Homo sapiens: one gene and its partners. The protein of the gene in region 1 purifies or fractionates together with the protein of each later gene. This does not show direct contact. Each region holds a gene or a part of one and is shown on either strand. Other genes may lie near its edges.

Evidence for each region.
Region 2: the proteins of TEX14 (region 1) and SERPINB5 purify together in Homo sapiens (affinity purification with mass spectrometry; one large-scale study listed by BioGRID and IntAct). This does not show direct contact.
Region 3: the proteins of TEX14 (region 1) and LTF purify together in Homo sapiens (affinity purification with mass spectrometry; one large-scale study listed by BioGRID and IntAct). This does not show direct contact.

Annotation. Positions count from the first base shown.
Region 1 is NC_000017.11:58,558,579-58,564,180, reverse strand, and holds part of TEX14 (inactive serine/threonine-protein kinase TEX14), read left to right. Parts: intron 1-2,568; coding exon 2,569-2,661; intron 2,662-4,618; coding exon 4,619-4,728; intron 4,729-5,602.
Region 2 is NC_000018.10:63,500,958-63,503,271, forward strand, and holds part of SERPINB5 (serpin B5), read left to right. Parts: intron 1-2,314. UniProt on the Homo sapiens protein: Tumor suppressor. It blocks the growth, invasion, and metastatic properties of mammary tumors.
Region 3 is NC_000003.12:46,451,406-46,454,905, forward strand, and holds part of LTF (lactotransferrin isoform 1 preproprotein), read right to left. Parts: intron 2,956-3,500; coding exon 2,900-2,955; intron 1-2,899. UniProt on the Homo sapiens protein: Transferrins are iron binding transport proteins which can bind two Fe(3+) ions in association with the binding of an anion, usually bicarbonate. Lactoferricin binds to the bacterial surface and is crucial for the bactericidal functions.

The DNA of each region.
Region 1 (5,602 bases):
GAAATGGTATTACTGGATCATATGGTAATTCTATTTTTAATTTTTTGAGGAACTGCCACACTATTTTCCATAGCAGCTGCCTCATTTTACAGTCCCACCAACAGTGCACAAGGGTTTCAGTTTCTCCACATCCTTGCCAACACTTGTTATTTTCTCTCTCTTTTTGTGGGGGTGGAGGCTTTTTTTTTCTTAAATATAGTAGCCATCCTAATGGGTGTGAGGTGGTGCCTCACTGTAGTTTTAGTTTTCCCTTCCCTAATGATTAATGATGTTGAACATCTTTTCATGTGCTTGTTGGCCATTTGTATATCTTCTTTGGAGAAATGTCTGAGTTCTTTGCCGTCTGTGTGTGTGTGTGTGTGTGTGTGTCTGTGTGTGTGTATACATATATATGTATACATATATGTATGATCTATATATATGTATACATATATATGTATGATCTCTCTCTATATACATACATATGTATGATCTTGCGCTCTCTCTCTCTCTCTCTCTCTCTCTCTCTCTCTCTCTCTCTCTATATATATATATATATATATATATATATATATATATAAATTAGAGATGGGCTTTATGTTGCCCAGGCTGAACTTGAAGTCCTAGGCTCAAGTGATCTTCCTGCCCCATCCTCCCAAGTAGCTGGGACTACAGGTGCAAGCCACCATGCCTGGCTCTTTGCCTATTTTTTGATAGGGTTATTTGTTGTTATTTTCTCTTGAGTTGTTTTTAGGGTTTTGTTTGTTTATTTTTACTTCATTTTGTTAGGCAAACACAAGTTTCAGTCTCTTTCAAAACATTTTAGTTAAAGGCCTTAGAAGAGAAAATGGGGGCAGTCTTCCAGACAATTCAGTCTAAAAGTACAAGGTTGCCTCAAGAAACCTGACTCTGTTCCTGATTTGGAGCTCTTTTTGCCTGTGTTGTAGGGTAAACTACTTCAGCTCACCTCCTCTGCCTCTTGACTTCTCTTGAACTATCATTATTCGGGGCCAGGACTAGGTTAAGGTGAGCTCAGGAGATAGACTCCTTGGATACAAAATTGAAGGGAGCACCAAAAAAACTCAGTAGTCAAAATAAGTAATATTTTAGTGCAATTTTTTTTTTTTTTGAGACAGAGTCTCACATTGTTGCCCAGGCTGGAGTGCAATAGGGCATGAACACCACTCACTGCAGCCTTGATCTCCTGGGCTCAAGTGATCCTCCTGCCTCAGCTGCCAAGTAGTTGGGTCTATAGGCTCATGCCAACATGCCTGGATAATTTTTGTATTTTTTGTAGAGATGGGGTTTTGCCATGTTGCCCAGACTGGCCTTGAACTCCTGAGCTCAAGTGATCCACCCAACTGGGACTCCCAAAGTGCTGACATTACAGGGGCCAGGCGCAGTGGCTCACACCTATAATCCCAGTACTTTGGGAGGCCAAGGTGGGTGGATCACTTGAAGCCAGGAGTTTGAAACCAGCCTGGCCAACATGGCAAAACCCCGTCTCTACTAAAATTATATATAAAAAAATTAGCCAGGCATGGTGGCACACACCTGTAGTCCCAGCTACTCAGGAGGTTGAGGCAGGAGAATCGCTTGAACCTGGGAGGCAGAGGTTGCAGTGAGCTGAGATGGTGCCGCTGCACTCCAGCCTGGGCGACAGAGCGAGACTGTCTCAAAAAAAAAAAAGAAAATTAAGCTCTTTTTACGTGATCAAAAGTTAGCTATTATTATTGTTGTCTCTTCCTCTTCCAAAAGGGCCAGCAGTGCTGGCCACAGATAGATGCCCCACAGATGCTCAGTCATCTCAGTGCTGTGAATGATCAATCTAGGCACCAAGCCAGAGTGGAAGACATTTTTTCAGATGAGCAGGACTTTCAGGCATTCTTAAAATACTCTACCCTGCATCTTCTAGCCTTTTCTTGGAAAAACATGTAGGAAAGCATGTATAGTTCTAGCCTCAGGTAGAAAACTAACTCAGTGACCTAGAATTGAGACAGAGTCTACCATCAGACTTGGGGAAGCAGTGATCTTAATAGGTGCTAAGGCTTTTTGTCAAGGGATTAAAGGACTATTTTGGTGCATATTTCTTCTTTCTTTCTTTCTTCTTTTTTTTTGAGACAGAGTCTTGCTCTGTCACCCAGGCTAGAGTGCAGTCGCGTGATCTCGGCTCACTGCAGCTGCCGCCTCCTAGGCTCAAGCCATTCTCCTGCCTCAGCCTCCCGGGTGGCTGGGATTACAGGCGCACGCGACCACGCCGGCTGATTTTTGTATTTGTAGTAGAGATGGGGTTGGACTGTGTTGGCCAGGGTGGTCTCAAACTCCTAACCTCAGGTGATCCACCCACCTTGGCCTCCCAAAGTGCTGGGATTACAGATGTGAGCCACCACACCCGACCAGTGCATATTTCAGTCAGATCTAAGTGACCTCTATGACTCCAGACACAATCTCACTGAGCTCTTGTTTTTTCATACATATAGTGAAAGCACAGGTTTTAAGGTCCCTTTCTACTCTAAAGTGTTATGCATCTTTGTCAAGGGGGATGGGAAATGACTGTTGTCTCCATTCTCTTCACTTGTCCTTAAACAGAGCTCACTCTACTCTGGATGAGGACCTGGAAAGATGGCTGCAGCCACCTGAGGAGAGCGTGGAGCTACAAGACCTTCCCAAGGGCTCTGAAAGGTTATTGTTCCCCAAAGGGGAATCCTTTTCTTCTTTTTCAGGAAGTGGGGCTAGGTTTTAGACTTCTTGGAGAATGAATGCCTGATGATGGCATTACATTGATTTAGATAAGCCAGCCCTGACTCCACCTGTCTGCACTCATATTTGCCCCTCTTCCTCTGACCACCCACAGTACTCAAGATATTGATTAGCAGATTCATATCATTATAGACAGAGGCTTCTAAGTTTGCTGTATCTTGGCCCTGCTACCTTTGACATTTTCATCAGTCATGTGAATTAAATCAGAAAAGGTATGCTTATCAAATTTTTAGATAACACAAATCTAGGAATGAATGCTGATGTGATGAGTGATAGACTGAGGATTCAAAATCATCTTGACAGGTGGAAATGTTAGATTCTGTAAAAGATAAAGGTCAAAGATCCAAAATTACAGAATGTGTGAGACCTGGTCTAACTGGAGAAGTTTTCATCAGAAGCTTCTGCTCACTATAATTTTACTGAGGGCAAGAAGTATGTCTTATTTTTGTATGCCCAGTAATGAGCCATGCATCTTGAGACATGATGAGAAGTCAAGAAATTCTTCCTGAGGAAGGCATGGGCAATGACTCTGTGAGGCCTGTTTGATGAAGTGCTGAAAAGGTCAATGCAGCATTGATGCTGGATATATAAAAATGTACTGTCCAGATGACGGTAATGTGCTGTTCAGAGGAGTCCTAGGACACATGTGGGGCTCCATTCTGGGTATCACATTTTAAAAGGGATATTAACAAACACAAGAGTGTGGCTACAGAACAGTCAGAGGTCTGGAAACCATGTCATATGAGAACAGCTGAAGGAGCTGAGAGGCTCAGCCTGAGAAAGGCAGATGGAATGGAGAATTTGATAGCTGCCCTCAAATACCTGAAATATTGCAAAGTGAAGAGAGTCAGCTTACTTGTCTGCCCTAGAAGACTAATTAGTGACTAGAAATTGCAGAGTAACAGATTTTTATTCAATAAAGCACAAACCTAATAGCCACAGCTATCTGATAAAGGGAAATAGCTGCCTGCCTTTACACTTATTTTAGTAATGGTTACTGCTGCTCAGGCAGTGGCTGGATGATTCCCTGTCCTGGGCATTTGAACGGGGGCGGAATATAACCCAAAGGCCTCCTCCAACTCTTGAACCTGTGATTCTATTAGTGGGAAAATATTAAGAGGGGAAAAAATCTCTCTTCACTCTAGCTGGCTTTATTTTCTCTCTCATTTTACGTATTTTGTTTTGACTATCCACCAAATGAAAACAGAAGAATCCCTAAACAATGTTATTTTGGTTCAACCAGCATCCACCGAGCACTGACAATGTCCAAAGCACTGTGCTAGGGGCTAGAGGTACCACAAAGAGGGATAAGATGGCTCTGCCGCCTATAAGGAGTTTCCAGTTGGGTCGGGGGGATGGTTTCTGCTTAATAGATTGACAAACATGGTCTTAAATTTTGAGGTACTTAAATTATTTACATATTTCACTTAGGAGAGAGTTTCGGGAAATGAAGATAAGATGATAAAATAAATGATGGTTTTGAAAGGGACACCAATCAAAACTTAAGTAAAATGCCTTTTTTTTCCTTTGGAGCAGTATAGCATAGTGGTTGAAAGCAGAGTCTAAGGCAGACTGAGTCTAAGGTCAGAGTCTAGCTCTAGGAATTATTAGGTGTGTAATTTAACTTCTCTGTGCCTCGGTTTCCTCATTGCTTAATGGGGATGGCAGTGGTAACTACCTTATATAGTTATGGGAATTAAATGAGTTAAATTATAGCACTTAAACCAATGCCTGGTGCATAGAGAACACTCTTGTTAGTGCTAGCTATTATATGGTTTTGTTGTTGTTGTTGTTGTTGTTTGTTTTTTGTTTTGAGTACAGTCCTGTTTTCTTGGCTGTTGTGTATACGTTTTGATTCCCCAAATAATTGTTGTTACAGGGAGACAAATATCAAAGATCAAAAAGTTGGTGAAGAGAAAAGAAAAAGGGAAGATAGCATTACACCAGAAAGAAGGAAATCAGAGGGTGTTCTAGGGACTTCTGAAGAAGGTATGAATTAATGTATGTTTATAATGTAGTCTGTAGTCCTTGGGCTTTGATGTGCTTCAAAGTTATTTAGAAATGTTTCCCAGATGCTATACATAATCCTCCTACCTTTGATAATTTATTTTTCTCTGCAGTTCAGCTCAGGTTTTCTGTTAATTGCCAATCATAGCTTTATCACAAAAACAGTAATAACATCCAATTCTATTTCCAAAGCAAGCTTTTGCCCAGTCTCATCATCATTATCTTGCACGTTGTCTGGGGAGACGTTTTGCTGCTTCTTTTTTTTTTAGACAGTTTCACTCTTGTTGCCCAGGCTGGAGTGCAGTGGCACGATCTCGGCTCATCGCAACCTCTGCCTCCTGGGTTCAAGTGATTCCCCTGCCTCAGCCTCCTGAGTAGCTGAGATTACAGGTGGATGCCACCATGCCCAGCTAATTTTTGTATTTTTAGTAGAGACGGGGTTTCACCAGGTTGGCCAGGATGGTCTCGATCTCTTGACCTCAGGTGATCTGCCTGCCTCGGCCTCCCAAAGTGCTGGGATTACAGGTGTGAGCCACTGTACCCGGCCGATGTTTTGCTTCTAATTGTCCAACGTCTTCCAAAGAGTTTTAAATTTAGCTCACATAGATGCTTCAAAATCCAGTAATAAATCATATTTTATGGAATTTAAGTGGAGTCTACAAGTAATGTGAAAATTATAAATTAACCTTAATTTTAAAACTATTTTGATAGATTTTGAAGGCTTCTGATATGCCCTTTACAATGACGCTCTCCCATATTTAAGTTCTTCCTACTCAGGAAAGTAAGAGACTTTAACTCTTTCAGATCATCTGGTATTCCTTTCACCTCTTCCTGATTTCCTTCTCATTCTCCCCAT
Region 2 (2,314 bases), on another chromosome or scaffold:
GATTTTACCTTTCGTTCTTAAAACGCCCTCCAATAAACATCAATTATTTTCTTCTTCTTCTTCTTTTTTTATTTCAATAATTTATTTTTCTTTTTTTTAATTATACATTAAGTTTTAGGGTACATGTGCACAATGTGCAGGTTTGTTACATGTATATACATGTGCCATGTTGGTGTGCTGCACCCATTAAGTTGTCATTTATATTAGGTATATCTCCCAATGCTATCCCTCCCCCCTCCCCCCACCCCACAACAGGCCCTGGTGTGTGGTGTTCCCCTTCCTGTTTCCAGGTGTTCTCATGGTTCAATTCCCACCTATGAGTGAGAACATGCAGTGTTTGGTTTGTTGTCCTTGTGATAGTTTGCTGATAATGATGGTTTCCAGCTTCATCCGTGTCCCTACAAAGGACACGAACTCATCATTTTTTATGGCTGCATAGTATTCCATGGTGTATATGGGCCACGTTTTCTTAATCCAGTCTATCATTATTGGACATTTGGGTTGGTTCCAAGTCTTTGCTATTGTGAATAGTGTTCCAATAAGCATACGTGTGCATGTGTCTTTATAGCAGCATGATTTATAATCCTTTGAGTATACACCCACTAATGGGATGGCTGGGTTAAATGGTATTTCTAGTTCTAGATCCTTGAGGAACTGCCACACTGACTTCCACAGTGGTTGAACTTGTTTACGGTCCCACCAACAGTGTAAAAGTGTTCCTATTTCTCCATATCCTTTCCAGCACCTCTTGTTTCCTGACTTTTTAATGATCGCCATTCTAACTGGTGTGAGATGGTATCTCATTGTGGTTTTGATTTGCATTTCTCTGATGGCCAGTGATGATGAGCATTTTTTCATGTGTCTGTTGGCTGCATAAATGTCTTCTTTTGAGAAGTGTCTGTTCACATCCTTTGCCCACTTGTTGATGGGGTTGTTTGATTTTTTCTTGTAAATTTGTTTGAGTTCTTTGTAGATTCTGGATATTAGCCCTTTGTCAGATGAGTAGATTGCAAAAATTTTCTCCCATTCTGTAGGTTGCCTGTTCACTCTGATGGTAGTTTCTTTTGCTGTGCAGAAGCTCTTTAGTTTAATTAGATCCCATTTGTCAATTTTGGCTTTCAATTATTTTCTTCTTAAAGTATAGAACTAAAGAAAATGACCTTTTGAGTTTTGGAAATGATTTTTTTTTTTTTTTTGAGATGGAGTCTTGCTCTGTCCCCCAGGCTGGAGTGCAGTGGCATGATCTCAGCTCACTGCAAGCTCCGCCTCCTGGGTTCATGCCATTCTCCTTCCTCAGCCTCCCGAGTAGCTGGGACTACAGGTGCCTGCCACGACGCTTGGCTAATTTTTTGTATTTTTAGTAGAGACGGGCTTTCACTGTGTTAGCCAGGATGGTCTCGATCTCCTGACCTCGTGATCCACCCACCTCGGCTTCCCAAAGTGCTGGGATTGCAGGCGTGAGCCACTGCGCCCAGCCGCATCTCTCTCATTTTTTAAAACAGCTAAAATGGATGCATTCACTACCTATGACCCTAGGGCATGGCTCAGAGTTAGTTCAAATTCCCATTAAAAAAAAAAAGTAACTTTAGCTTTAATTTAATTTTCTAAATCTGATGCCATTCCTAGTACATGAATATTCTGGATTTCCTCGTAGAGAAATTACAATAAGCATTCAAGAAATATGTGTAAAAAGCTTTCTAATTTTATATTCATTTCACTATTGTGTATGCAACATCATGATCCAGGCATTTGTTTCTATAAATCTACTCTCTAACTTAAGGTTGGGTGCGGTGGCTCACACCTTTAATCCCAGCACTTTGGGAGGCTGAGGCTGGCACATCACTTGAAGCCAGGAGTTTGAGACCAGCTTGGCCAACATGATGAAACCCTGTCTCTACTACAAATACAAAAGAAAATTTAGCTGGGCATGGTGGAGTGTGCCTGTAATCCCAGCTACTCGAGAGGCTGAGGCACGAGAATTGCTTGAACCCAGGAGGCAGAGGTTGCAATGAGCGACGATCACACTATTACACTCCAGCCCGGGTGACAGAACAAGATTGTCTAAAAAAAACCCAAACAAACAAACAAACAAACAAAAAACTACTCTCTAACTTAAAATGAAAAAACAGAACCCTGTCCTCATAAATTTCAGTGCACATGGAACACTGTTATAGGCTGGGGAGGAGGAGGACACAGCTGGGTGGCTGCTGGGTCTCCTGAGTCACATACCAAAAACTTCTGGGCCATCTTTGATGTTCCACCCAGACTGCTTTGAAGCTGGGCTTATCATAACACCTTATGTTTTCAATTGAGC
Region 3 (3,500 bases), on another chromosome or scaffold:
CCAGTGTATTCCATTAACAAAAGAATGGCTGAACATCAAAAAAACTAAAGTAATCTGCATTTAATGGCAGAAAACCATGAGATCGTCTTCATCTTAATAGATGCAGAACGATTGTTTATGTGTTCAACATCTATTTGTGTGTGGTTTTTTTTTCAGCCTCAGAAAAATAGTAATAGATAGAATCGGTAAAGTTTTTTTGTTTGTTTTGAGACGGAGTCTCACTCTGTTGCCCAGCCTGGAATGCAGTGGTGCGATCTCAGCTCACTGCATCCTCCATCTCCTGGAGTCAAGAGATTCTCTTGCCTCAGCCTCCCAAGTAGCTGGGACCACAAGCGCACGCCACCAGGCCCAGCTAATTTTTGTATTTTTAATAGAGATGGGGTTTCACCATGTTGGCCAGGCTGGTCTCGAACTCCTGACCTCATGTGATCCACCCGCCTCAGTCTCCCAAAGTGCTGGGATTACAGGGGTGAGACACCACGCCTGGCCATAAGTTATTGGCTTGATAAATGCCATTAATCTACAGCAAAAACCTTACTAAAAGAAGAAAATGTAGACATTCACCGCAAAATCAGGAACAAGGCAAGGATGCCCACTGTTACAATGCCAGCACAATTCTAGATATCCAGATCACACAATTTACAAAAGAAATGTGAGATATAAACACTGGAAGGAAAAAGACACACTCTTATTTAAAAAGATGATATCGTCATCTACAAAAAACCAATGAAACCAACAGAAACTAATAAAACTACTCAGAGGAGTAACAAGTTATAAGAGCAACCTACAAAAATCAGATGTTATCCTCATTAACAATAACCAAATAGAAACCAATATGGACTATAAGATGTTACAATAGCAACTAAAACCATTAAGTAGCTAATAATTAGCCTCCCACAAAGACACATCAGACCCACAAAGGAAAAATTTTAGTTCTATCAAAGAAACTAAAAAGAGGTGTGATCAAATGGGGGAGATTTAGCATCACCATGGACTGGACAACTTAATGTTATAAATATGCTGATTTTTCATGGAACAATTTAAATTCAGTACAATTCGAATCAAAATTAAAGTATGATTTTTTCCAGAAATTCAACAAAATAATTCTGAAGTTTTAGCTGAGTATATTTGAAAAGGAATAATAAAGTGAGAGGGGAGAGGGAGCTCTCTCTCATTCTCTCTCTCTTCCTCTCACTGGCTCTCTCTCTTTCTCTCCACCAGATAGTAAGACCCATTGGTAAGCCACAGTAACAAAAGCAGAAAAAATGCAAATACACCAATGAAATAAAATAGCTCAGAAACTGGTCCACTTGGATATATACAAACTTGGTGTAGAATTGGCTTCACATATGGCAGAAAAAATATACTTTTTTTATTGTAAGGTAAATTGCCTCACTGTAAAGGGGATAAAATGCTAAAGCCAAATCTATATCTGACTTTCTAGGTAGAGCACATATAAATAGATGAGGAAGGGGATCTTCAAATCTTATTTTAGGAAATAATTATGATTTGGGTGTGAAGAAGGGCATCTTTGAAATATCTCAAAACTACAAACCAACAAGGTGAGGCTTGTGGATTTGACCTTATCAATATCAAGGATTTTTGATCAACAGAGACTACCGTTGTCAGATTTTTGACTGAGAAGAGGTTTTACTAAAGTTTAAAATCAGCAATAGTTTGATACCTAGATAGAAGGAACTTCTGTCCTTGAATCAAAATCATGCAGAAACAAGGTGTGAAACTCAATTTAAAAAGTAGTCAAATGTCACAAAATAAGAAAGGGAAGCCCAAACGGCTAGCAAATATGTTGAAATGATCAAACTCACCAGCTGTCAGAGAAATGAAAATTAAAAATAAAACGAACTATCTATTGCATTACAACCATCATTCGGACAAAAAGTATGAAAGTCAAAAATACTTCTAACTGAAGTTGTGGGGAAATTAGAACACTTGCAGAGTGTCATTCCAGACAGCAGCTTGGTGATCCTGGGTGCATGTGGGGTCTGTCTCTGGTGGCCCTGGGTGCATGTGGAGGTCTGTTTCTGGTGGCCTCTGATGAATGCGGGGTCTGTCTCTGATGGTCCTAGGTGAATGTGGGTGTTGTCTCTTTCTCTGGTGGTCCTGGGTGGATGTGGGGTGTGTCTCTGATGGTCCTGAGTGAATGTGGGTGTCTGTCACTTTCTCTAGTGGCCCTGGGTGGAATATAGTAGCCCTGTCTCTATTGGTCTTGCATGAAATGTAGTGAGCTTATGTCCACTAGTCCTGGGTGCAGTGTGTTTAGCCTCTACATACTCATCAACTGCTTTATTATAAGTCCAGGAGGGACGCTGTCCAGCACGTAAGTAAGGAACACAGGTGAAGGTATCAGTCGTGTGGCTGCATGTGGTAGAGGAAAAGAGAGCACAACCTCTGTCCATCACTATGGTGACAGAGAAGTAAAAGGTGGATGTATTCCACGGAACACTCCTCAACTGTTAGGACCCCTGAGCTAGACATGTATACAACAATACCGATAAACCTCTAAAACAAAATGCTGAGCAGAAAACCCAAGTAGCAGGATTTCTAATGCTCACTAAAACCTCTATGAACCCAGAAACCGGAAACACAAACCAGCACAATCTGTTCTGCATGAGCACATGTGTCTTGGAGGACTGGAGGACGCATTGCCAAGCACCTAGGCATGGGTGTCTATGAGGGGAAGAGAAAGGCAGTAGGCACAGGAGGTTTGAAGAAAACTGATCATTTAAAATATGAAAGATCATAAAATCAGAGCTGTGCCCTGTAGGAATCTTGAAAATGGTCTGCCATGAACTTAGGAATCTAATTAGCTCAAAGGTCAGAGTCATGATCAAGTAAGATAAAAGGGGTCAGTACCCACGGCTCATTACCCTGCTCTTACCAAACACTGTGCTCTCTCTGATAAAAGCCACGTCTCCAGCCCCGTCTCTCAGACACCTGTGAAAAGAGAAACCATCAGGGGTAAGCACAGGCAGCCCTCCCCAGCCCCTCCCTGTGGAACAGTAGCCCTGGCACTCAGCATCTATGGGTTTCTACTCCCTGCAGGGCAGGGCTCTGAAGCTTTGGGGCATCCCAGCTGGGAAGGTAGGGGCCCCCTCCAGGTAGATACTGAAGAATGACTCAGGTGCTAGCCAGAGGCCCCCATCTTCTGCTTTGAGGGCTAAGAGGACAAAACTTTTTTCTATATAAAGGAGAGTTTTGAAGCCTCTACCCAAGAGGGTAAAGCCTTAGCATCACTGTTCATGTGGCTGTTTTCCTCAGGACTGAGTGTGCAGGTGTGCCCTGGCCAGTGGGGAAGTGTGGAGGCCTCCCTCTGCAAAAATACGCTAGTGCCAGCAGACAGAATGGGAAAAGGGGGAGCTCAGCCTCCGCGTGGGGGCAGAGAGGATGGGGGCGAATCAGGCATTGCTCACTGTCCTTCAGCCACGGGGAGAGGCCCAGGTGGGCAGAAGGACATCAGCCTGGACACTGCAGCGGTCCTG